Linked DNA regions of Homo sapiens: region 2 is linked to region 1. Evidence: fine-mapped expression QTL. A gene starts in region 1. The other region holds a variant in brackets. All regions are shown on one strand. Distances are from middle to middle.

Region 1 (12,516 bases):
ATGTCTCATCACTTTATTTTGTTACAGGCTCATTTTGCTTGAAATGTTTCAAGTATTTTATTTCCACAATTGTTAATGAGTAGTATAATTTTTTCCCTTCTGAAGTTTTGTAAAAGTTCCTTAGTTGAAAGGTATTTGTTCAAAAATGTAGCTGTAACCCTGGAGGAAGTGTAAATAGTAAGGACCCAGTAAGTCAGTGTTGATGACTCGCAGCCCTGACTCTCACAGCGTGGTGGTGCACACCTGTAGTCCCAGCCACTGGGGAGGCTGAGGCAGAAGGAGCACCTGAGCCCAGGAGTTCGGAGAGTGCTGCGGAGAGCTAGGATCACTGGACTGCATTACGTACAGCCTAGTTGGCAGAGTGAAATCCTGTCTCTTTAAAAAAAAGCCAAGGCCAGGTGCGGTGGCTCACGCCTGTAATCCCAGCACACTGGGAGGCCGAGGCAGGTGGATCACCAGGTCAGGGGATGGAGACCATCTTGGCTAACACGGTGAAACCCCATCTCTACTAAAAAAAAATACAGAAAATTAGCCGGGCATGGTGGCGGGTACCTGTAGTCCCATCTACTCGGGAGGCTGAGGCAGGAGAAGGGCGTGAACCCAGGAGGCAGATCTTGCAGTGAGCCCAGATCACGCCACTGCACTCCAGCCTGGGCGACAGAGCAAGACTCCGTCTCAAAAAAAAAAGCCAAATGATAACTCCTAATCCCCAAATCTAACATTTTAGAAAGTAATAAAATAATAACAGTACTCTTTTAAATACTTTAAAAAGTACTCTTTTAAACATTTCTTGCATTAAAGGACCTCTAGTATTTAGAAGGAAGGCACTGTTTGAAGCCCAGTTGACAATATTTTCCATATGATCTTATTTGATCCTGGCTCTGCTGGGGGTGTATTGGGACGCAGGGAGCACACAGTCCTGGTGAGGCCAGGCCGATGGGTCCTGACAGGCACTGCTCATTAAGACCAGGGTCAGAGGACTTGTAAGAAAAGCTGTTTCTAGGCTGACAACTTGTCAAAGTACAATTTTCAAAAAACTTTTAAAACATGACTCATTCAATTATAAAATGATCATGTGTAATAGATTTTATTCAGTCCCTTAATTTGAGGTAACCAATGACGTGGTAAAGACTAGTTCAGGAAGCACTTCAGGAATTATTTTTTAAAAAAAGGAATTAGATATTTAGAGGCAGTTTAATACAGAAACGTTGTGGTAAGACTGCTGCCTTATCTACAGAACTGGATAATCTCTTAGAAGGCGATACACCATAACCTTTTGGGTTGTATTTTTCTACTGGATAGAAATTATCTGGATGCATGCAGTGGCTCGTGTATATAATCCCAGCACTTTGGGAGGCTGAAGGGGGAGGATTGCTTGAGCCCAGGAGTATGAGACCGGTCTGGGCAACATAATGAGAACCTCATCTCTATAAAGAAAAAATTAAAAAATTAGCTGGTCACCTGTGGTCCCAGTGACATGGGAGGCTGAGGTGGGAGGATCACTTGAGCCTGGGAGGTTGAGGCTGCAGTGAGCTGTGACTGTGCCACTGTACTCCAGCCTGGGTGACAGAGCAAGGCCCTGTCTCAAAAAAGAAAAAAATTATTTGCAACTCTACTGGGCAAAAGTCTACAAGTTAATTATGCAAATTCACTAAATCTGGGGTTTTTAAGTAATGGCAAACAGTAATCAAAGTACACTTCCATAAGTAATCTGTGGCTGGGCCAGTGCCCACATGACACTGAAAGGACATGTTACCTACCTTTTTGCCTTATTTGGAAATTTAACATAATTTTTTTCTTCAAAAGTTCTCCTCCTGTTAAAGCAAACAGTATTATTTGTTCCCTAAAGGTGCCTGGAGAGAGTGTGGATGAAACAGGAGAACCCACCGTCTGCCGGGGACAGCAGGTTTGAATAACCAAGAGCACCCTCTTTAAGAAACGACCTGGTTATTTGTTTTTAATTTGTAATGGAGACAAGGTTTCACTGTGTTGCCCAGGCTGGTCTAGAACTTCTGGGCTCTCGAACTCCTGGACACAAACAAGACCCTTGTTTCAGCTTCTCAAAGTGCTGTGATTACAGGCGTGAGCCACCACGCTCAGCTCCCCCTAGTTTATTATTATTATTATTACCACCTGTTTATGCAACTCAAACCCTGTCAAACTGCGTTTTGGCTGGCTCTCTGAAAAGGTGTAATATAAGGGCACCAACCCACTTCCCTCCTACAAATGGTCGGGACTCAGATGAGCACTGTTTTCACAGGGTCTCCTCCATAACCAATGGTCGGGACTCAGATGAGCGCTGTTCTCACGGGGTCTCCTCCATAACCAATGCTCACTCTACCTGGCGTAAGCCCGCAGCTGGAGCTCCTTATTCTACCCACTTCTGTGTGTCAGGAGAAGGTGCTGGCTACTTCTTGCAGTGAAGGAATTCCTCCGAGCTAGGGATGCTCCGTGCTGATCCCTTTGGGCAGCACCACTCAAGTCACCCTCGAAAATGGCTTGCCTTGGCGAGGTCAGGCTGTTTGGGAGTAGAGGGTGTGTGTGGCTCCTGCAGCCCCCACAATCTCAGGAGCCAAAGATGAGCACCTGTGGCTGTGAGGGCAGCAGTGGGCCTCTCCTATCTCCCAGTGCCTGTGCACGTCTCTATCTGTGTGACAAAGCACAATGGGGGGCACTGTGCCAGCTGACAGGCACAAGAATGTCAGTGTGAGCTCCCTGGAGAACGGAACAGGAGAAAATGAAAATGCAGTAAGGAAGCTCAAGGGCCATGTTGTGGGCTGCCGGGGAAGGTGGATGGGGGATCGTCAGAAAAGGAGGAATTCACTACTTGCGAGGCTGGCATGACTTTGCTTCTATCTCCACTGGTAGCCCACGCTGGGCGTGAGAATAGCCTTTGCCCTGGGGATGAGGATTCTCCCATTAGCCCCTCCAGAATTCCCTCAGACGACCTCATGGTGAGGGCTGCTGTGCACCACGGAAGCTATATAATGGGGCATGTTCTCCGCTGTCCAAGTGATGGCTCCATGCTGGCCTGGCTAGCCCCTAGCCTTTCCTACCCCACACGTGCCAATCACCTCCCTCCACGTGATGGCCGCTGCCATCACAGGGGCTGCAGCAGGGAGGCCTGGCTGGGGCTGCATACTTCACGGAGCCAGTAAGAGCTCTGCCCCTTCTGAGATGGGGCGGGAGCTCCCCGGGTACCGCTGCAGTCACCCAAACTGTGACTGCAGACCCAGGCCTCCTGCTGTACAGATCAGGCAGGATCCCAACCCTCCTGTGTGGGTCTACAGCCACCCAAACTGCAGCTGTGGATCCAAGCCTCCCTGAGCTCCTGGGTGGGAGCCAGGGGCAGGCAGGATCTGCCCTTCTGCGTGCAGCTGCAGCCACCCAACCCACAGCTGCAGACCTCAGCCTCCTGCTCCACGGAGGAGGCAGGAGCCAGGACAAGCAGGAGCCCTGCCCCTTCCGAATTGATGGGGCAGGAGCTCCCCGGGTGCAGCTTCGGCCACCCTCCCAGGAGCAGGACCCCGGCATCTGTGCATTCTGCACCTCCAGGGCCTGGGAAGAACCACCCTGTACCCAGCCCCCCAACCCCCATCCCTGCAGGCTCAGGGCTGTCTGCTTCCCACTGCCTGGCCTCTCTCTGCTCCCACTCTCAGAGCGGGGTTGGGGCCTAGCCAGGGACCATAAATGGCAGTGGGAGGCAGACAGAGTCCCTGGAGGGAGAAGGCGGGTCCCCAGTAAGGCCCCGCCTTCAGGCCAGGGAGGGCCTGAAGGCCTGGCTGCCAGTCCCTCTGACTGGAGTGGGGACTTGTGGTGTCTCCCTCTGGCTGCCCATGGACCAATCAGCATGCACTTCCTCCCCTCTGAGGTGCATAAAAGCCTGAGGCTCAGCCAGAGCAGGGCAGAGGATGGAGAAACGATGGGATGGCCAGCTGCAGAGAGGAGCTACCCTCTCTGCTGAGAGCTTCAGAGACCTGCAGAGGTGTTCAGAACAACTTGCCTGTGGAGAGGAGCCACTCTCTCCAGGGACTTCTGTCTGCTGAGAGCAGCAGGTGGCAGGAGGACCAGTGGGCAGAGAGGAGCTACCCTCTCAAGGGCCTTCTCTGCTGAGAGCTGAACACTCAGTGGGAGGGGAGGACTTACCTACAGAGAGGAGCTCACTGCAGATCACCTCTGAGCTGTTCTAGCATTCAATAAAGCTTCTCTGCATCTTCTTCACCCTTCACTTGTCTGTGTACCTCATGACCTCATTCTTCCTGGAGGCAGGACAAGAACTCAGGTGCCACAGAGGTTTCTGGGAAGAAAATTGACACCCAAAAATCCCACACAAGGACAGATGAGGGTCCATTCTCTCCAGTGGCACCTATAGTCCGCCAGGGGTTCAGCACCTACCTTCATTTTGGATCTGAGCCTTTATGCATTTACTGGGTCTTGGAATGGGAGGTTCGGCTGGCAGGGACAGCCGCTGTCTACATCTTTCCTACTGCATGATGCGCCTGATATGCAGGCGGTGGTGGCAGGTGGGGTCCCCCTCCCACATCCCACCAGGGCTGTGTCTAGGAGCCACAGAAGTGGACTCTGCCCATTTCTCTCTCTCTTTGCATTTCTGCTGTGACAATCTCACCTCTCCCCAGGCAGCATGGAGGAATCCAACCTAAGGGCAATGAAAAGTTTAGGCCATGTTCTCGTTTTCGAGCAGCCCCTCTCTACAAGTGCAATTTTCCTTCTCTTTCACTTCCCTATGTGGCATGCAAGGGCCTCTGCAATGTGGTCCCATCCACTTCTGTTCAACCTTCCCTTCCACTAGTGAGCCACACACTGGTCTGGCTAACCCCTAGCCTTTTCCTACCTCCCACATGCTAATCACCTCCCTCCACGAAGAATGTCTGTCCTCGCAGGCTCTGTCCTCCCGGGCTGCCCATGGCTTCCCTGATCCTACTGTTTATGCAGCATCCATCTTAAGTATACCCTGTCCTTGAGCCCTCCTCTGTCTCCCCAGGCCCGGGGAACTGCACCCACTGTTTGAGCTCACTGTTCAGCCCCTTTTGCTGTCCTAGGGACATCTGTTCACATTAATAAGCCTGGGTGCCCAGTCTCACCAGCCTGTCTGAGCACAGACAGTCACCTCCAGGTCCATGCCTGAAGCTTGCTGGCTCCCGTCTCCCACCCATGTAGCGCCCTGTCACCTGCAGAGGCCCCTCTACAAACACAGGCACTTCTGGGAGTCCCTGGGGTGTGCTACTGAGGCAGAAAATTTAAAAATACATATGCCTTCATTCACTCCAAGAAAAGTAACAGGCAAGGCAAGGGTTAAAAAGTAAAGGACAAGTTTTCCTCTGCCTATAGCAAGCCCACTGCAAGGACAGTTATAACAGTGTCCAGAAAGCCAAGGCCAAAGGAATGGGCTCCAGATACCCGCCGCCCCACTTCCAGAGCAAGGTTGAAGGAAAAAGAGAGAAAGACAAATTCTTTTACTGTTACTGTTTTCCCAGGCTTCTTAAGCATGATTGTGTTTTACAAATGTCTGTACTTAGCCAGTTCTTGTTTTTCTTTCAATGCAGCTACAAAGTCACCCGCTGTGCAAGGCCACAAGTTATGCTATGCTATAGATTATGTGACCTATCATGATTAGCTGCTTTTGTTTTATTTATTGTAAGTCCACTTACAAAAACCCCGCTCTGTCTTTGTTTAATGCTCAGCTTTTTGGATGTGAGTCCACTGAGCCGGTGTGTACCTAAAATAAACAATCCTCCTGTTCTTCACATCGGTCTCTCCGGTCCTCAGTTTCCCACAACACTGCATGTGCTTGAGCTGCTCGTGCCTCAGCTCTGGCCTGTTCCCTGGAGGGGACGTCAGTGTGGGCTGCAGCTGGGTGGCTGGTGCCTCAGTCCGCTAATGCCCAAGTTGCACCATGGCCTACAGTAAGATGGGGTGGGCTGGGCTGGGGTAGTGCTTGCTGCTTCTTTTCTGACCTCTTCTCCACTAGAGAAATCCCAATCCAGCACCCTCCTGCATTTCTAAGTTGCACGTGAACAGGTTTTGCAGGTTGCCTCACGACAATGCCCCCAGGATTTGTTCCTTACTGACCTTGTCCTGAGGAGAAGGTTATGGTGGGTTAAAAATTGGTCATCAGCCCCTTCCTCGTGGTTAGTTAGTGGAGACTGCAGTCTACTCTCTTTCACTGTTCGGGGACTGCTACCCTGCCTCCTTGGAGTCCGAGCTTCACTGGCACAAAGACCCTGAACCCAGCTGGAGCGTTTTCTCCTCACTTTGAGCCTCTGCAGCTGTCGCTCTCTACAAAGCTCTCAGATACCTTTCCCCTCCTTCTGTGACCCTGGAGAGATATTTTACATGGGAATTCAAGATTTTTCTCAGAGACAGGATGTGACGACTTCCTTGTTTTGTTCTATCCATCTTGGTTTCCATAGCCAAGGGCAGAGCAAACGGCATATATCTTAGGGTGGAAGATGGATAAATAATTCTGTCACACGTGCCCTGGCCTCTGGAGCTCAGCTGCCAGTCCACGTCTAGGGAATCTTAGCATCTGGGACCAAGACACTTTACAGCAATCATCACCCTTTGCAGAGGAGGTGAGCTCACCAGGACTCATCTGCCATTTCAGACCTTTTGCTGCTACCTGCCAGGTAAGTGGCTCATTCTCAACAGCTGCCTACACCTCCATCTTTCAGAAACGGCAATCAGAAAATGAAGGTGGGAGGCTTTGGGAAGGCGTACAATTAGTGGCACCATTTTATTATCCGAGCTTGGCCGCAGCATGGGATGTTTCGAGTGTGGCCAAGAGGAGATGTCCACGCCCGTTTAGGTGGGCCGCATCTCAGGAGGCAGGATCCTGATACATCCCATTGCCCCCACCAGACGAAAAAGATTTCAAGCCTCATTGCGGTTCCCTTCTTGGGGCAGTCCATCTTCCTTAGAGACTAAGAGGGTGGAAATCCTCTTGTGGACCTATCGAAATCAAACCAGCGCAGGCAGTGAGCACTAGCTGGGGTCTGCCGGGGGGAAGGGCATTGCAGGGGGTGTCGGGGAGGCCCGTGGGAGAGGGCCAAGGCCCCACTGACACCTGCGGACTTGCAGCTTGGGGAGTGGAGGACAGGAGACAGGCAAAATTCACCAGTTACACAGCTTACAGAAGTAGCAAAGCAAAGACTATACTTCAGGGATAATTTCTGTACTTTGTTACTAGAGAAGTTTTCCACTCTGGGACCCCACAGTCTCCGCAGACATATGCAGAGCAAAAAATACTTCCTGTGTTTGGGAGAGCAAGAGACATGGCATTTATTAATAACATGGATTTTCCTGCCAGGTTTCATAACGTGGTCATTTAAGTGTGAAATGTAGTCTTAAAATTATGTTAGAGAATCCCCAAGGTTTTGCTCTGCCCCCATGGAAACACTGGGATCGCTCAGGACGCCAACAGCTGCATAGCAGGCGAGGGACTCCTGTGGGAGGACGTGGCCTGTGGACACTGCCAGGTTCGGAGATGTCCTTGGGAGATTTACTATTTGTCAGGAAGATAGTGTTAAGTTCAGGCAAATAATTATATGTGTGGACAGAATCTGAAATTCACCAATAGAGTAAGTAAGAGTGAGAGATTGTGAATGTGTAATACAAATGGAAAAGCAGGTTTTATTTTGTTAAGTTATTCACCAGGGAACCAACTGAAGTTCCTTCTAATCCTCTTTTTCTCCATTCTTGCTTTGCTGAAAGTTGGAGAAAAGGACATGTGTAGAGAAAATGGGATGCTTCAGGGTGGCTCAGAGGACACCAATCCATAGTGATTCGCCTGAGTTTGTCAGGTGGAAGCAGTGATTTTTAAGAGTCACTGATTAAAAACAAACAGTCCTAAGTGTATTAGGGAGATGCCATTTATTTGTGAATCAAAAACTTTTCTCAGTCTCTTAAATTATGGTTTTCCTGTAATAAGAATGATTTATATTTTTAGTGAAAAGTTGTTTTCCTTTCAAATACAGACTTTTTAAAAAGACTTAGTTTGAGTAAGTACCTTTTCATTTGATGCTTTTCTTGTGCCTAACCTTAGGAAATCCAGAATAGTATTTGACAGAAATTATGTTTTCAACTTGCCTTTGACATCTGTCCCACTGCATTTTGCTTTAAAATTCTTTATTTAACAATAAATTATCTAAAAAAATAACAGTAGCAAAGCAAAAAGTACTCATCTTTAAAGACAGACTCGACGGAGGGACCGGAAATCAGAAAAACATCAGGGTTGTTTAGGAATTGCAGGTGCAGGAGGAGAGAACAGGAGTGGGGCGGGCTGGGGGCAATGAGAGAGCAAGAAGAAAAGAAAAATAAAAAGAGAAGGAGAAGAAAGAAATGGGCTTTTGCTGGGTGCAGGCAGTGACATTTCTCAGGACCCCTTATTTCTCCCTGTGCCTTCCGGAGGGAGCAGCCCAAGGCTCCTGGGAGGACAAGCAGCACGTGCCCGCCGGCAGAGCTCAGCTCCAGCTGGAGGACCCCTTTGTGGTCCTTGCGCACACTGGGTTTTCCTTCTTCCCCAAATATCCGACGCGTCCAGTCCCTTACTCCTTCCCCAGGCAAAACCTCCTCACCAGGAACAACCTGAAATCAATTTACACTGTAATCAAAATAGCAGAGGGTGGAAAGTGTTTCCTTCGAGGAGGGGACTTACGCTTCAAGTAAGGATTGAGCACCCTGGATCCTTAACTGAAGAGTGAGGTCAGAAAGGGCGGACGCACAGCAGCAAACGGGGAGGAGGGTGCTGTCCAGGAGCCGCTGACTTTTCCCTTCAGGAAGCTGCCAGACCATCTCTCTCTGCTAAAGGCTTTCAAGATGATACCCTTGAGTGTTGGGAGCAAAGGGACCAGGTACCTGTTCCTCCTGGCTCAGAAGATGCTCTTGACAAAGTCTTAGGGAGACCTCAGCTTTAAGTTGTTTTATCTGGCAGCGGGATTTTAAATTTTGTATTCATTAGTTGGCTGGTTGGCTGGTTTTGTGGCTGGCACCGTGTGAGCCGGTCGCTTCTTCAGTGCCTCTGTGTGATGGCAGGTTAGGGTGAGTGTTTGGTCTGTGGCCAGCTGGTTCCTGAGACGGTCATGGTTTTGGGTAACAGGAGTGACGGAAGGGTGTACCCAGACACACGACGTAGCTGGTGAGGAATCTGAATTCGAGAAGTGCAGAGCGAGGCTCTGGAACCAGACAGTGGGTGGAACCCCACCCCACCACTCACCCACTGTGTGCAGGAGCAAGTCACTCAGCTCCTGGGCCTCCGTTTCCTTATCTATAATTTGGACCTATTAGTAATAATAATAATAAAAATAATAATACTGAGGTATAGATAAGTGTTTGATAGATAGGAAGTACCCAATGCATGTTAGTTTTATTACTGTCAGCACGTGTGTGTGTGTGTATGTGTCTGTGTGTGTGCATCTGTGTGTGTGTCTATGTGTGTGTCTGTGTGTGTGTGCATGGGTGTGTCTGTGTGTGTGTGCATGTGTGTGTGTCTGTGTGTGTGTGTGTGTGTCTACAATCCTCCTCCCCTGAAGATTCCATGATGGGAATCACACGGGTGTATCACAACAGAGAACTGAGGTCCCTCTAGCACTTCCACGGTTCTGGAACATCCTGCCCCAATCCCCTGTCCCCAGGAGGTGGCAGCCTGCCCCCAGTCCAGGGAAATTGGAGTGAGTGCTCCTTCTGTGAGAAGGCCAGCTGTGGGACCTGTCTCGCGCCCCATTACCACCTTATGAGCAGACCTGTGTCACAACCTAACACAACCTCGACTAATTCCCCAGAACCCAACCCATCTGAATGGATGCATAAACACACCCTGAGCCCCTCTTGGTTTTGGAAGTTACTAGCTGAACACTGACGTGCCCCTCCTGGTTTTGCTGTCATGGAGCTCTAACCTGTGTCTAGAATCCAGAAGAAAAGACTGAAGTATAAAGGAAAAGAGAAGGGAACAGAAGAGAGGGTGAGAAGGTGCACAACCAGTGTAGACCCCTTTGCTGGAACCCTTCCTTGCCAGCTTCCCCACCTGTCGCAGAGAGGCTTCCACCAGTAGCCACAGAGGGTGAGAGTCTGGACTGTCCAGCCAGGGCCTGGACCCTGCCCGAGGCCTCTGCCCATGCTGGTTATTGTGTGAATCGTGTTCCAATAACTGAGAGGTGTCAACACGGCCCCGCTTCGGGGGGACCCCACCTCCTGTCCTTGAACCTTCTTGAAACACACCTGGAGCTGTCCCAACCTGTCCTCTGTTTGTCCCCTCAATTTTAGCTCTAGGAGACAGGGCCATCAGCCCATGCGCCTCACAGGCCACCCCTCTTCCCTTGTATTCCTGCCTGTCTGGGTGCCTCCTAGCCTAAGGGTCCCTGGGGAGCCTCTACCACCTCATTAACTCACCCTGCACACCTCCTCTGATCCTTCTGCCTCTGCATGGCCCAGCAGCTTTGAAAGTCCTTCCTTCACACCTGCTGATGGTGTTGCTGACAGTGTGGCCAGTGCCCTGTGGCCACAGGACACCGGAAACACCTGCCATGCCAAGGTCTCGGAAGAAAAGCCAAGCCGTGGGGGCCGACGGGGAGACAGAGAGGGTTGGAGAGAGGAGCCCACCGTGGCCTTCCAACAAGGGCACTGTGATGAAGTGAAAGGCAAGGGGTGCAGTCCCAGGACGAAGACAGTGCGTGGGCGTTGGGAAGGCAGGGGGAAGGGAGGTGCTGACTTTGATTTCAAGAGCTCCTAGCAACCCATGGGAGTGGGCATTGGTTTCTTCCATGGTTCAGGCAGAGATTTCGGTCCAGCCAATGACAGAATCTGCCTAAAATCTTGCAGAACTAAATGCAAGAGAAATATGGAGAGTTTTGTGTATCTCCAGAGACTCATTGGCAGCAGCACACTCTCTGGCCGTGAGTCATTAGTGGGTCCCAAGGGAGCAGAGCATCAGGAGTGAGGGGGTAGCCCTTGTCTGGGCCAGGTCTGGGCCTCCTGGGTCATAGATGAGGAAGGGGTGGCTAGATGGGATGACTCCATCACTGTAGCCCCGAAGATGCTATCGACACAGAGACAGTTACCAGCTGGCCTCCTGAAGGCACAACTTGAGGTCCCAGGCCTGGAGGAGAGTGTCCTAGGATGTCGTTGGGGCTGGCAGGCAGCCACCTGCATGCACTCCACTTCTGAGAGAGCAGAACTCTGTGTTTGTTCCTCTGTTTTGCGGACTCGATGTTCCAGACCAAAGGGAAGTGGGACGAAGGTTGGGTTGGTGGTGGTGAGGCAGGAAGAATGAAAATGCATCTGAGATCTTCAGAGATTGCCCTTTGTTTGAGGAAAGTCGCTAAGCCCAGAAAAGGGGGGGCGCTGAGCCCCCACACATTGTGTGGCTCTATTCCTGGCTCTAAACAATAAGCAGCACAGAAGCTGCTTCCTCTGGGATCCTTCAGCCTCGTCCCCTTGCAGCTCTGTGAACCTGGGCAAGGCCACGGATGCCATTAACAGTGTCCCCTGGGAAAATTAGAAGCAGCTCTCCCCTCTGGCCATGGAAGAAGCCAAGCGCTGAGGCTTGTAAGGAATTTGAGAACTAGACAAAAATAACTGAGGCCACAACAGACTTCAGGTCTGATGGAGTGAGTTCCAGCTCCCCCTACCTTTGCACGTCGCTCCAGCACCCCTTTGTCCCTCTCCAGGTGGCCCCCACTGCTGACGAGAGATGGTGGACCTCTCAGTCTCCCCAGACTCCTTGAAGCCAGTATCGCTGACCAGCAGTCTTGTCTTCCTCATGCACCTCCTCCTCCTTCAGCCTGGGGAGCCGAGCTCAGGTATTGTGTCTGCAGCCTAGCTGGCCAGGATGTGAACGCCACCCCTCCTGCCAGGTGCTCCCCAGGGCTACGATCTTAGCACAGTACCAGGGCGTGCCAGACGCTAAAATACAAAAAAGACTTCCATCCTGGTTGTTAAAGAGCCACTACCCCGAGCATTACCCAGCCTGTAGTGATGTTCCTCCACCATCTCCCCAGCCCCCGACACCTCCTCCACCATCTCTCCAGCCCTCAACACCTCCTCCACCATCTCCCCAGCCTGTAGTGTTCCTCCACCATCTCCCCAGCCCCCGACACCTCCTCCACCATCTCCCCAGCCCCCAACACCTCCTCCACCATCTCCCCAGCCTCCAACACCTCCTCCACCATCTCCCCAGCCTCCAACACCTCCTCCACCATCTCCCCAGCCCCCAACACCTCCTCCACCATCTCCCCAGCCTGTAGTGTTCCTCCACCATCTCCCCAGCCCCCAACACCTCCTCCACCATCTCCCCAGCCCCCAACACCTCCTCCACCATCTCCCCAGCCCCCAACACCTCCTCCACCATCTCCCCAGCCTCCAACACCTCCTCCACCATCTCCCCAGCCCCCAACACCTCCTCCACCATCTCCCCAGCCCCCAACACCTCCTCCACCATCTCCCCAGCCTGTAGTGTTCCTCCACCATCTCTCCAGCCCCCAACACCTCCTCCACCATCTCCCC
Region 2 (14,238 bases), 25 kb after region 1:
GCCTCCTGGGCACAGCCTGGCGGGTCAGAGGCTGAGGCTCCACTTCTGTCTCTCAGGGCATCCAGGCTGCTTATAGAGTCTCTTTACCTACATGCTCCACTCTCCTGCTTTTTCCAGCAGAATTTCAGCCTGCACGTAGCTCTGGTATCAATGACACAGGCCTCTACTCAATCTAAAATTTCTCAGGAAAATACATGGTGAACCCCAAGACCAGTCTGGATTCAAACCAGTTGTCACAGTGGGAATGGGGTCATTCGATCTGCATGCATCCCTCATACATCTGGAGACTTCGTTAAGGTTCCAGAGTTACTGACTGAGATTTCTGAGCTTTTTTCCCCTTTTCTGTTTGGTTTCAGAGTGGAGAGCAGCCCAAAAATATGCAGGTAACTGAAGCCAGGAAACTGATTTGTGTTTTGGTTTGGCCGGATCTTAAACAGAAGGGAGGTGGAGAGATCTGAGATTAGAGGACGGGGCTTTATAGGAGCCAAGTATGGGGCCTGCACACACAAGACACACACGCACACTTGCAAACACGCCACACGACACATATGCCTGCATGTGTATGCACACACATGCACACGTGAGCTCCCAAACACATCGCTCCTTGGGGTTACACTAGGTTTGTTTCCATCTGGCTTGAGGCTATTTGCAGGCGAGAGTGCAGAGTCTGTAATGAACCTCCCAGATTCTCTGACGAAGGGGTCCCCTAGGTTCCCATCTGTCAGATGGCATGGGGTGTTGAAATGTGGGGCACTGGACTAGATGATCTCAAAGGTCCTTTTAAAATCCTTTTAAAAACTTTTCTGAAGGACTGTATGTAAAAAAAAAAAAAAAAAATCCAAAATTTCTGTAAAATGACGCTCAGCGCTCTCCTGATTATGCCAAGGTCACGCAGGGTGGTGCCACCAGCAGGAACTAGAACCAGCCCATAGGTCCTTCCCCTTGACCGGGACGTGGCTCCCTCCCCGCCAGCCTACTTCCTTTGCTATCTCTGGTATGGAATTCAGGGACCTTCCAGTTCAGGAAAGGACAGGATTCCTTGTCACTATCAAACACTCAGGAGTGACTGACACATGCCACTTCAGTCCTGGGGAGGGGGTTTGCAGGGGTGAGGGTCGGGGTAAGGGGTTCATTTCCTCGATTATTCCACCAAGAGAAACGAGAGGTTTGTCCGCCTTGGGGAAGACACGGACGGGGCCCAGACCGTCCCGGGCGGGCACTAACGCTGTGGCTCTGCGCAGTGGATGTGACGCTGGACCCGGCCTCGGCGCACCCCAGCCTGGAGGTGTCGGAGGATGGCAAGAGCGTGTCTTCCCGCGGGGCGCCGCCAGGCCCGGCGCCTGGCCACCCGCAGCGGTTCTCGGAGCAGACGTGCGCGCTGAGCCTGGAGCGGTTCTCCGCCGGCCGCCACTACTGGGAGGTGCACGTGGGCCGCCGCAGCCGCTGGTTCCTGGGCGCCTGCCTGGCCGCGGTGCCGCGCGCGGGGCCTGCGCGCCTGAGCCCTGCGGCCGGCTACTGGGTGCTGGGGCTGTGGAACGGCTGCGAGTACTTCGTCCTGGCCCCGCACCGCGTCGCGCTCACCCTGCGCGTGCCCCCGCGGCGCCTGGGCGTCTTCCTGGACTACGAGGCCGGAGAGCTGTCCTTCTTCAACGTGTCCGACGGCTCCCACATCTTCACCTTCCACGACACCTTCTCGGGCGCGCTCTGTGCGTACTTCAGGCCCAGGGCCCACGACGGCGGCGAACATCCGGATCCCCTGACCATCTGCCCGCTGCCGGTTAGAGGGACGGGCGTCCCCGAAGAGAACGACAGTGACACCTGGCTACAGCCCTATGAGCCCGCGGACCCCGCCCTGGACTGGTGGTGAGGCGCCCTCGTGGCCGCGGGACTGGCCCCGGGGGGCCCCCTGGATCCCAGGCCAGCGCTTTGCTCTCCTGCTCCGTCTGAAGGGAGCAGGTGCACCAGCCAAAATGTCAGCGAGGGGGACAAAGAGAGGGACCTTTGCCTACGTAGATGTGTATGTGTAGTGCGATTTTCTTCAAGGAAAGGAGACAAGTCCAAAGCTCGTTTGTGGATTGTGGGACTGAGCGAAGGAGTACAAATATATCCACGTCGCTCAGAGCTGGGGTGCTCACGGTGGGCGGTGGGCAAGAAGCCAGCATGGAAGAAAGAAGGGAGAAAACTTTGGTGACTGCCTTAGAGGGATCAGTTAATTTGTATAGTTTTATATTTTTTGTATATGTTTGCTAGCTCTAAAAAGGTCGAGATGCAATAACACTTCGTAAGCAACGAGTTCACCTAAGTAAGGCTCAGATCCTAGTTTTAAAAACCATTTCCCATTAAAATGAAGTTGGAGGAACAGCTGCTTCTGGAGCCGGGGCAAAAATTTCAAGGTGAGCCTGGAGCATTGTGTGTGGTGAAGTAAAATAAAGGCTCAAAACGTGACGGCAACCCGGCAAAAGGGTAGGGAGCCAGGCCGAAGGGGCCTCACTGACCAATTGTGGGACAATTTGAACATCAGGATGAATAATGACAGGAGAGATTATAACACACTGAATAAAAACATAATCCATGAGTTCATGCTGATACTCAAATTTCTTTTTAAAAAGGAGAAACAGGAAGGTTTCTTTTGGAGGTGAAATCTAATTATTGGTGAGAGTCTTGGAGAACAGGCTGTTTCCAGTCTCAAAGCAGTAACCTTATACACTACTTATAAGTTTGAAAGGGGAAAGGTTACCTTTACAATGGAGACATCTACCAGATCATCCAAGTGATTAAATTTAACATCATCAATGATGGGACCAAGGACATTATTAGTTTGACAACTGGGGAAAGAAGTGTTCTTCACCCCCTACCCCCAAGACATTGTCTCTGTCGGCCAGGCTGGAGTGCAGCCTCAACCTCCTGGGTCCAAGTGATCCTCCCACCTCAGCACACAACACCATGCCCAATTTTAAGTGCGTTATAGAGACGGGGGTCTCACTTTGTTACCCAGGCTGGTCTCAAACTCCTGCGCTCAAGCAATCCTCCCACCTGGGCCTCCCAAAATGCTGGGTGTACAGGCATGAGCCGCTGTGCCTGGCTTCATTTTCAGAGTGAGACATTTGTACTGTGGCTATGTAGGAGAACATTCTTGTTCTTAGCAAACATACTGAAGTTTTTAGATATTAATTACCACAGTGTCTGCCACTGAATTTCCAGTGACTAAGTGGAAAAATATAAAACATATGAATATAAAGAAAGAAAGAGACAAGTCAAATGTAGTAAAATGACAACACTTGGTGACTCTAGGTGACTGGTCGACAGATGTTCATTGTACTATCAATGTGGCTTTGCTGTGGGTTTGAAATTTTGCAAACTAAGAGTTGGGTGGCGGGGAGAAGGATACACCAAAAAACTAAGTGATTATCTTTGGATGGGAAAATGTTTGGTAATTGCATTCTTAAAATGTCTTCTTTGTATTTTTTAATGTTCAATAATGTATATGTATCAGTTCTGTAATAAAGGGGAAAACACTTTTTTTAAATACTCATATTCAAAATCATTCATTTGAAAGGAGCTATAATGAAACTGCTGGACGATCTCCTAGGCCATTGTTTCAGAGTAAGTAAATATGGCTCTCATCCCCTTCCCCTTAATCCAGGCAGAGCTTTCCTTGCCCGTCTTGTTTGAAAGGGGGAATGAGGAAGGGAGACTGGTCCGCAGCCAAGCTTTCTAACTGGTCTTTCCTCCTTCTTCCCTCTTTCCCTCTCCTTTTCTTTTCCTCTTCATGGGGACTGAGATTTCTACTAGGGCCTTTAGCACCAGGATGGGAACGGATGGGGCAGGGACACCTCTGGGATGAGCTTTCGCCCCACAGGCCCGGGAGTTCGGTTACGTACCAGAGGGAGGTGGCACAAATAAAAAAATTCACTAAGTGGCGCTGAGAGTCGGGAATTCACTAAGTGCGCTGAGAGTCGGGTTTCGCTGTCAGTGAAGGGAAATACGAAATACGGAAAGGGGAAAGGAGAGGATGAGGGTGACTCTGAGGTGGACTGGAATGAGATGTATCAATGTGAATGCGTGGGTTTTACTGCATGTAGAGAGATGGAATGCACGCACACACGTGGACAGATACACAGATATGTGTGGGTGCATGCAGATCGTTCCCAGCTCTGTCTTGTTTGAAGGCTTAGCAACAATAACACCCCAGTACCAACGGGCACACCGAGACCCAGAACTTAGTTTTTAGTACGATTTTCAGTAAAAGGAATAAAGTCTCCTTGGAGAAATGGTTGAGTCCAAGGCTGGGGCAGGGAAAATACAAGGAGAGCCTACAATATCCTACACCAGAAAATAAGGAAGTAGGTTGCACAGAAGAGCCATGTCGAATGGATTTAGACGTCAGAATGGATTTTGAACCCCTGAATCAAATAGGAATCCATATGTATATTTCCCCACTGATATACATACATACATACATACATACATAAACAAATTCATGGAGAGAAGAGAAAGCTCTGCCCTACAATAGGAGTCTGAAAATATTACTTCTTAACTCATAAGTACAAAACACGTACCAATTAACTTTACAGTGGAGGAGGCTGGCAGGCGCCACCTTAGCCAAATGACAAAAGTTAACATCACCAGATGCGAAAACAGTTTACATCACATTCTTCCTGATACAATGCAGAATACAAACGGCATCACTTTTGAGGTATTCCTGCACCCAAAAATGCATAAATCAGGAGGAAACATCACAGAAACTGACTGGTACTCTTCAACAATGTCAAGGTCATGAAAGACGGGACAACACTAAGGAACTGCTTCAGACTAAAGGAAACAGGACAACTAAGTGCAACAGGTGACCCTGGATGGGATCCTGGATCTATAAAAAACATCACTGGGCCAGACAAATTGGCTCAGGCCTGTAATCCCAGCACTTTCGGAGGCTAAGGTGGAATGATTGCTCGAGTCCGGCGGGGGGAGATTATTGGGGGAAAAAAGGGCATTTTGAAAGAGGTGTGTGGATTAGATAATAATATTGGATAAATGTTAATTTCCTCATTTTGATGTAGAAGAATGCTTTTAAGAAAATGCACACTTACATATTAAGGGGTAAAGGATTATGATGTTTATACCTTATTTTCAAATGGTTCATTAAGACATATAGTAATATAAACAAAAGAGAGAGAGAATGATAAAGAAATGCAGTGGTGTCTGATAAATGTTTAATAACTGGCTTTCTAGGCTGGGCGCGGTGGCTCATGCCTGCAATCCCAGCACTTTGGGAGGCCGAGGCGGTGGATCACAAGGTCAGGAGATCAAGACCATCCTGGCTAACACGGTGAAACCCCGTCTCTACTAAAAATATAAAAAATCAGCTGGGCGCGGTGGCGGGTGCCTGTAGTCTCAGCTACTCGGGAGGCTGAGGCAGGAGAATGGCGTGAACC[C/T]GGGAGGCGGAGCTTGCAGTGAGCCGAGATTGCACCACTGCACTCCAGCCTGGGCGACAGAGTGAGACTCTGTCTCAAAAAAAAAAAAAAAAAAAAAAAAAACTGGCTTTCTGAAAAAAAAAATATTGAGCCAATTTCCCTGGTGCAAGTCCTCCCACTATGGTTGATTTCAAGCTAAAGATGTGACACCACTGAGGGCAGACTGGGAAGTGCCTTAGTCAGCTCTCGCTGCTGTAACAAGATGCCACACACGGGGGAAGTGCCTTAGTCAGCTCTCGCTGCTGTAACAAGATGCCACACATGGAGGAAGTGCCTTAGTCAGCTCTCGCTGCTGTAACAAAATACCACACACGGAAGAAGTGCCTTAGTCAGCTCTCGCTGCTGTAACAAAATACCATACACGGAGTGGCTTGTAAACAACAGAAATTTATTTCTCACAGTTTTGGAGGCTGCAAGTCCAGGATCAGGGTCCCAGCACGGTCAGGGTTGGCGAGGGTTCTCTTCTGGGTTGCAAACTGCTGCTTTGCTTTGTATCCTCACATGGCAGACAGCAAGAGAGTTCTCCAGGGTCCGTTTATATTTTTGTCTTTTAAATTGAGACAGGGTCTTGCTATGTTGCCCAGGCTGGTCTGGAACTCCTGGCCTCAAGTGACCCACCTACCTCAGCCTCCCAAACTGCTGAGATTACAGGCATAAGTTACCTCATCCAGCCCCTACCAGGGTCTGTTTCTGTTTTTTTTGTTTGTTTTTTGTTTTTGAGACAGTCTCACTCTGTCGCCAGGCTGGAGTGCAGTGGCGCGATCTCAGCTCACAGCAACCTCCACCTCCTGGGTTCAAGTGATTCTCCTGCCTCAGCCTCCAGAGTAGCTGGGACTGCGGGCATGCACCACCACACCCAGCTAATTTTTGTATTTTTAGTAGAGACAGGGTTTCACCATGTTGGCCAGGGTGGTCTCGATCTCTTGACCTCATGATCTGTCCTCCTCGGCCTCCCAAAGGACTGGCATTAAAGGCGTGAGCCACCCAGCCTCTAACAGGTCTGTTTTTACAAGTGCATTAATCCCATCATAAGGACTCCACCCTCATGACCTAAGCACCTCCCAAAAGTCCCACCTCCTACTACATTGCATTGGGTGTTACGATTTCAACATGTGAGTGGGGCATGGTGGAGAGGGACACATTCAGACCATAGCAGGAAGAGACACCCATGATCAGCTCTCATGAGATGCCAGCTCCAGAGACCATTGTTTGTGCAATTCTAGAGGGAGATTGTAATTTGTTTCTCCATCAAGTCAGATAAGTGCATTTTAAGCTTATGAAAATATTCTTGGTCACCTGTTGGGAGAAAGCTATTCCCCTTAATTAACACATGATATTCAGAAAATGGAAGTTTTTTTTTCTAGAGTCATTTGCATTAGTGTGAGAATATTTAGGGTTCTTACTCATGAATGTTTTTGTGATAACATTAAAAATATGTTCCCTCTCCATCTGTAGCTATTATTCCTTTAAGACTGTATTTATGTGATAAATAAGAAAAGCAAACATACAGCTAATATAAAAAACAATGCTAAACTGTGTTTAAATAATCAGTGGACACCATCAGCCCACTTTAAATGATGGGCAGGCTGTTTTCCAGTGCAGGAGGGCTGTAGGCAGCCAGGGGCCCCAGCTGGAGTGGCATTAAGTTCAAACCCCTCTCTCACAAGGGCTGACAGCGGCACACAACCATGTGGCTCAACCAGCCAGCCAAAGATCCCGTCACCCCGACCCCCGTTCCTGGGCCCATCCAGCCCATAGTAAGGTGTCTCGTGGTAAGGCATCATACCAAAGTAGGCAGGGTCTGCAGCTTGGAGGAGCTAAGGGTAGCTGGCATTCACAAGAAGCTGGGCCAAACCATTGGCATCTCTGTGGAGCCAAGATGACAGAACAAGTCCACTGAGTCCCGCAGGCCAATGCACGGCACCTAAAGGTGCATGGGACCAAACTCATCCTCTCCCCAGGAAGCCCTTGGCCCCCAAGAAGAGAGACAGTTCAGCAGAACTGAAATTGGCCACCAGATTGACCAGACCCGTTATGCCCATCAGGTATGTCTACAGGAAGGAGAAAGCCTAAATCATCACCGAGGAGGAGAACTTCAAAGCCTTTGCCCCAAAGCCTTTGCTAGTCTCCACATGGCCTGTGCCAACACCTGGCTCTTCGGCATATGGAGAGCTGATGCAAGCTGCAGAACAGGATGTTGAAAAGAGAAAATAAATACCCTCCGGGGACTTAAAAAAAAAAGGGGGTGGGAGGGTCCAATACCCAGCCTTAAACTGAGAGAGACCTGAGACATTCAGGTATACATTTTGTGAACCATGAAGGCCCCGGGAGAGGCTGCCCAGAAGGCTGGAGCATGCAGAGTAAAAACCCACGTTTCCCTCCTGCAAGCGGCCCCATGCAAGTGTATACAAATAGCACATGGTGGATGTCCTTCTCCCTATCGTTCACATTTTCCATGCAGCTAACCCTCAAAAGTAGGAAAAGGGTGATTGCAGCACTTTCGTGTGTATCTCCGTCCAGTGTACAGAATACACCAGTGCTGAACCTGGTTGGGAGGCTTCTGCTGCTTGAGGGCGCCTGAGGATGGGAAGCTCTTTGGTGGTAGTGTTATGGGATCTCTGGGGTGTTGATTTTGCTGGTGTATCTCCTGGAAACCTCTGTGGCTGTGGCACTTTGCCCAAATTCTTGTTCTTTTCCTGTATCATACACAGACAAGTGAGGGGTGAAGAAGAGTTTTATTTAGTGTTCCAACAGCTCAGAGGAGTGAGTAGCTCCTCACTGTAGGCTGGTTGCCCATGGAGTGTTCAGTCCTCGGCAGAAAGGAGGCCCTGAAGAGGGTAGCTCCTCTCCACAGGCAAGTCATTTGGATGTCTCTACAGGTCTCTGAAGCTCTCATAGCAGAGAAAATACGTCCTCTCTGCCGGCAGGTCTCTGAAGCTTTCAGTGGAGAGAGTACTATTCTCTCTCCAGCTGGTCGTCTGTACAGTCGTCTCTCTGCCCTCTTTGTTTTGTGGTCCTTCTCTGGCCTGCTCTGGCTGGTCTCGGGACTTTTATAGGCCTTAGAGGGGAGGAAGTGCATGCCGATTGGTCCATGGGTGGCCATAGGCGGGTCCAGAAGAGGCACCACGAGTCCCCACTCAGGTCCGCAGGACTGGCAGCCCAGCCTTCAAGGCCCTCCCTGGCCTGAAAGTGGGACCTTTCCACAAAAAGATATGTAACATTTTCAATTTTCTATGTCATCTGTAAATTGTTACAACAAATCCAGGTAGACTGAAGTATATGGAGACTGCATAGTGTGAATTCTAAAGTTAAGAAAAAAACAATAAAATAAAATGCCAAAAGATGAAGATTTATACTGAAAAAATCAATAGAGGTGATAAAATAAAATACCAAACAATTTTGATTAGTCCAATAGGATGCAAATAGGAGGAATTGTGTTTTTTGAAAAGGGTACAGATACGTAGAAAACAAAAAGCAAATGTTAGATTTAAATCTTACCAGAGAGATAGCTATAATGACTACAAACAGAATAAACACTTCTATTAAAAAGAAGAGATTGACAGACAACTCACTTTAAAAATAAAGAATTGATAGGGCAGTAAAGTAATAGACAAAAATACAACTTGCAAAAAGATATTCCATGTGCATGGATACACAAAGATAGCAGGGTTAGCTATACTTGTATCAGACAAAATAGTCTTTAGGTCAAAAATTGTAAAAAGAGATTAAGAAAGTCATTATGTAATAATATTTCAATATTAAGAGGATATAACAATTATAAATATATATGCGCCCAAAACTAGAGCACCTAAATATATAAAGCAAATTTAAAATAATTTAAAGGGAGAGATAAACTAAAATGCAATTGTAGGAGATGACTTTAATACTTTTTTTTTTACTTTTTGTTTAGAAACAGGGTTTTGCTCTGTTGCCTGGGCTGGAGTGAAGTCACACAATCATAGCTCACTGTAACCTTGAATTCCTGAGCTCAAGCAATCCTCCTGCCTCCAGCCTCCTAAGTAGCTAGGACTACAGGCGTGTGCCACCACCATGCCTGGCAATTTTTTTTTTTTTTTTTTTTTTGGTAGAGACAGGGTCTAGTATGTTGTGCAGGCTGGTCAACTTGAACTCCTGGCCTCAAGCAATCCTCCCTCCTAGACTTCCCAAAGTATTGGGATTACAGGTGTGAACCGCCAGCATGAGCCTGGCCAATATTTCACTTTCAACAAGGAATAGAACATCCAGACAGAAAATCAAAAAGGAAACATTGGCCTTCAAACCAAGTAGACCTCATAGATGTATACAGAACATTTCATCCAACAGCAACAGAATACACATGCTTTTCTGGAGCACATGGAACATTGTGCAGGATAGATTCTATGTTACAGCACAACATAAGAAGACTGAAATTATATCAAGTGTCTGTTCTAATCACAATGGTATGAAACTAGAAAATAACAACAGGAGAAATCTTGCAAAATGCACAAATATGTGGAAATTAAACAACCTGCTCCTGAATAACAATGAGCCAAAGAAGAAATCACAGAGAAAACAAAAAATATCTTGGGACAAATAAAAATGAAAATATAACACAATATGAAAATGGAAAAATCACAAGAAGCAACCTAACTTTACATCTCAAGCAACTAGGGAAAGAACAAACTAAAACCCCAAGTGAGCAGAATAAAAGAAACAATAAAGATCAGTGCAGAAATAAGTGAAATTGAGACTAGAAAACAGCAGAAAAAAATCAATACACAATTGAGAACTGGATTTTTTGAAAAGATAAGCAAAATTCACAAACCTTTCCCTAAACTATAAAAAAAGACAGAAGACTCAAATAAAACCAGAAATGAAAGAGGAAACATTACAATTGATACCACAGAAGTAAAAAAAAGATCATAAAAAGCTACTATGAACAGCAACCAATCAGATAATCTAGAAGAAATGGATAAATTCCTAGCAACATATAATATACCAAGTATGAATCATTAAGAAATAGAAAATACAGGCTGGGCATGGTGGCTCACGCCTGTAATTCCAGCAACTTTGGAAGGCCAAGGTGAGCGGATCACTTGAGGCCAGAAGTTCAAGACCAGCCTGACCAACATGGCAAAACCTCATCTCTACTAAAAATACAAAAATTAGCCGGTTTCAGGGCATATGCCCTAATCCCAGCTTCTCGAGAGGCCAAGGAATGAGAATTGCTTGAACCTGGGAGGCAGAGGTTGCATAGCCAAGATTGTGCCACTGCACTCCAGCTTGGGCAACAGAGCAAGACTCTGTCTCAGAAAGAAAGAAAGGAAATAAGGAAAGGAAGGAATGAGAGGAAGGAAAGGAAGAAAGGAAGAAAGAAAATGTAAAAAGTATAAGTAAGGAGATAAAATAAAAAGTCTCCCACCAAAGACAAGCTTAAAAACTGATGGCTTCACTGATGAATTCTACAACAGTTAAAGAGAATACCAGTATCTCTGAAGATCTTCCAAAAAATTGAAATGGAAATAGAATTTCCAAACTGACTTCATGAGACCAGCATTACTCTAATACCAAAGCCAGACAAAAACACTATTAAAAAAACTACAGGCCAATATCTCCAATGAACATAGATGCACCAATTCTCAATAAATACTAGCAAAACCAAACTCGACAACACATCATAAACATCATATGAACAAGTGGGAATTATCCCTGGGATGGACAAAGCAATGCATATGATACCCCACATTAACAAAATGAACGATAAAAACCACATGGCTATCTCCGTTGATGCATAAAAACTATTTGACAAAATTTAACATTCATGTTTTCTTCAAAAAAGCTCTCAACAAAATTGGTACAGAAGAAAACTTCCTAAATACAGAAAGGTCATTCATGAAAAGCCCACAGCTAGTACCATAATGAGGAAATACTGAAATATTTTACTCTAAGATCGAGTGCAAAGCAAAGATGCCCCCCTCTCACCACTTCAACACACAACTGACAGTAATAGCAAGAGCAATCAGAAAAGAAAAAGAAAAACATTTGAGGTAGCAAAGAAAAACTAAATTATCCCTATTTGCAGAAAGCATTATTTTATATGTAGACAACCTTAAAAACGCTAATTAAAAAAAGTTAAAACCAATGAATTCCATAACGTTGCAGGATAAAAAAAACCAACATACAAAAAGCAATAAGCATTTCCATATATTTAACAAACTATCTGCAAAAGAAATCAAGAAAACACCACTTTCAATAGCATCAAAAAAATTTAAATACTTAAAAATAAACTTAACCCAGAAAAACGAAGTATCTGCACACTGACAACTCTAATACATTAAGGAAATAAATTGAAGACACAAGTAAAAAGATATCCCACGGACATCATGACAAGTGAAGTGTGAAAAAGAGTTTTATTTAGTGTTAGAGCAGCTCCGAGGAGTGGGTAGCTGCTCACTGCAGGCTGGCTACCCGTGGAGTGCTCAGCTCTCAGCAGAAAAGAGGTCCTGCAGAGGTTAACTCCTCTCCACAGGTAAGTCATTCAGGTATCTCTGCAGGTCTCCGAAGCTCTAAGCAAAGACAGTAGCTCCTCTCTGCCGGCAAGTCCCTGCATCTCGCAGTGGAGCGAGTACCCTTCTCTTTCCAGCTATTGGTCTGTCCAGCAGCCTCTCCGCCGTCCTCTCTGGCTGGTCGTTCTCCTGCCGAGTCCGCCTGGTCCCGGGACTTTTATAGGCCTCAGGCGGGGAGGAAGTGCATGCCGATTGGCCCATGCGTGGCCATGGGCGGGTCCAGAAGAGGCACCACGAGTCTCCACTCAGGTCCGCAGGACTGGCAGCCCAGCCTTCAAGGCCCGCCCTGACCTGAAAGAGGGACCTTTACTGGGGACCTTCCCCCTTCCGCCAAGGACTCCGTCTGCCTCCTGTGGTCATTCAAGGCCCCCAGGGCTCGGCCCCAAATCCGATCCAAGATCGGAGCAGTTGCCAGGAGTGGAGAAAAGCCAGGTAGTGGGAGCAGACGCCCCAGAGCCTACAGGGACAGAAGTGGGGGAAGGGAGGGGTCCTTTCTGGGGCCCCCGAGGGTGCAGGCTGCAGAGATGCCCGGGTCCTGCAGGTAAGAAGGCAGCTGCAGCGCCTAGGAGGGCAGACGCAGCCACACCCCTGAAGGCAGACCCTGTCTGCTCCCAGCCCTCCCCCAAGAGCACAGAGGGGGCTCGGATCCACAGGTGCAGTTTGGGCTGCTATGGCCCCGGCCCTCCCGCCTGCTCCGTACAACAGGAGGCCTGGGTCTGCGTCTGCAGTTTGGGCGCCTGGAGCTCCAGTCCCAACTCAGAAGGGACAGGGCTCCCACCAGCTCCCTGGAGCGTGCAGCTCCAGCCGTGCCTCCCTGCTGTAGCCGGCATACTGGCAGCAGCCACTGCCATCAGCAGAGTGGGGGAAAGACCTCCTCAGCCAAGCGGGCATCAAGTTATCCCCAGCTCGCCAGGGAATCTCAATGGGAAGACAACGATTCCCCAAGAATTGGGCATTCCTGCACATTTTTGGTGGGCTTATAAATTGGTGCAGCTTCTTAGAGGTCAATTTTGGTATTATCTACCAATTTATAAATGTGAACATTCTTTGACCCAACAATTCCACTCCCAGGAATCTGTTCTACAGAAATATTTGCATTAGCACCTAAAGACATAAGATATTCAATGCGTCAGTATGTACGCAGAGGTCGAAAACCATCTACCTGCTACCAGGGGAACAGATATAGTTTATTCATACTATGGGGTACTATGGCACTGTAAATTTTATGATACACATAAATTTTTACAGGGAGCATGTATTGCTTTGCAATTAAAAAGGAAATGAGGTGGCTACACCCTCCCCAAGTCCTCCTTATTCCTCAGCTCCCTCAGCTGTGCTTTGGCTGAACCCCCAGCCTCTTTTCCATGCCATTTGTGTCAGGACATTCCCATGCACTCCCCACCCGGCAGACGGCCTGGGAAGGAGGCAGCCAGATAGCTCGACATGGCTCGCTTCCCAGGTAATCTGACCCAAGGGAAACACAGGCTGGCACTGGGGAGGGTTAAGCGGGCTCTCTCTAAGGTCTTCATCTCCCAGTTTTCTTTTCCTCTGGGCAGGTCGTCCAGCCCATCAGAACAAGATACCAAGCTCCTCTTCTTGCAGACATCCCCCAAAGTTCCATGTGATTCTTTTAGGGGCTGCTTGGGGAGTGGCAAGTACTCCTAACTCCATCCCCATGGAGGGCAGGGAATCACCTCTTTCCAGGAGCACCATGCCCAGGGCCATGGTGACTCCCTCTCCAGCCTACTTCCCACCCCCAACCCCTCCCAAAGAAATGACCTCCTCTTTGGACCACTTTTTTATTTCACATTTATTTCTTTTATTTATATTTTATGGTCAGTGCAAACAATTCCATAAAGTAAAAACTTATGAAGAATCAAAGCATGATTATTTAAATTCAAAATAGACAGTTGATGCAAAATAATACAAGTATAAAAGTGGCTTCATTTGCACACACAGCAGCATGCGTTTCAACACATATCAAGGATGGTGAATGGTTGTTTTTTATTCTCTTGAAGACTGTGACAACATCAGATACTACAATGAATCTGTGTTCACATCAGCCAAAATTTGTTTCTAAAAATACTTTTTCACATTTAAACTACTGTCAAGATATGCTTTCCAGAATTAAGCCTCTAGTTTCTACCATCTAATAACTGATACAAAGCTGGGTACAGTGGCTCATGCCATAATCCCAACACTTTGGGAGGCTGAGGTGGGAG

Evidence for each region.
Region 2: its variant is fine-mapped to the expression of BTNL9 in whole blood (TOPMed, PIP above 0.99).

The regions. Positions count from the first base shown.
Region 1 is chr5:181,033,786-181,046,301 of GRCh38, forward strand. It overlaps BTNL9 (butyrophilin like 9), which reads left to right and starts at 6,481. Exons shown (of 11, transcript NM_152547.5): 1 at 6,481-6,647; 2 at 11,682-11,813. The coding sequence starts at 11,705. MIR8089 (microRNA 8089) reads right to left here and starts at 9,699; the gene lies at 9,618-9,699. RefSeq lists silencers at 2,375-2,753, 12,097-12,516 and an enhancer at 2,998-3,924.
Region 2 is chr5:181,057,996-181,072,233 of GRCh38, forward strand. BTNL9 (butyrophilin like 9) reads left to right here. Exons shown (of 11, transcript NM_152547.5): 10 at 357-383; 11 at 1,242-3,526. The coding sequence ends at 1,867. It also overlaps the pseudogene RPL13P10. Among named protein-coding and RNA genes, the nearest start is that of MIR8089, 22 kb to the left of the region's middle. The variant C/T (reference allele first, on the strand shown) is at 5,433.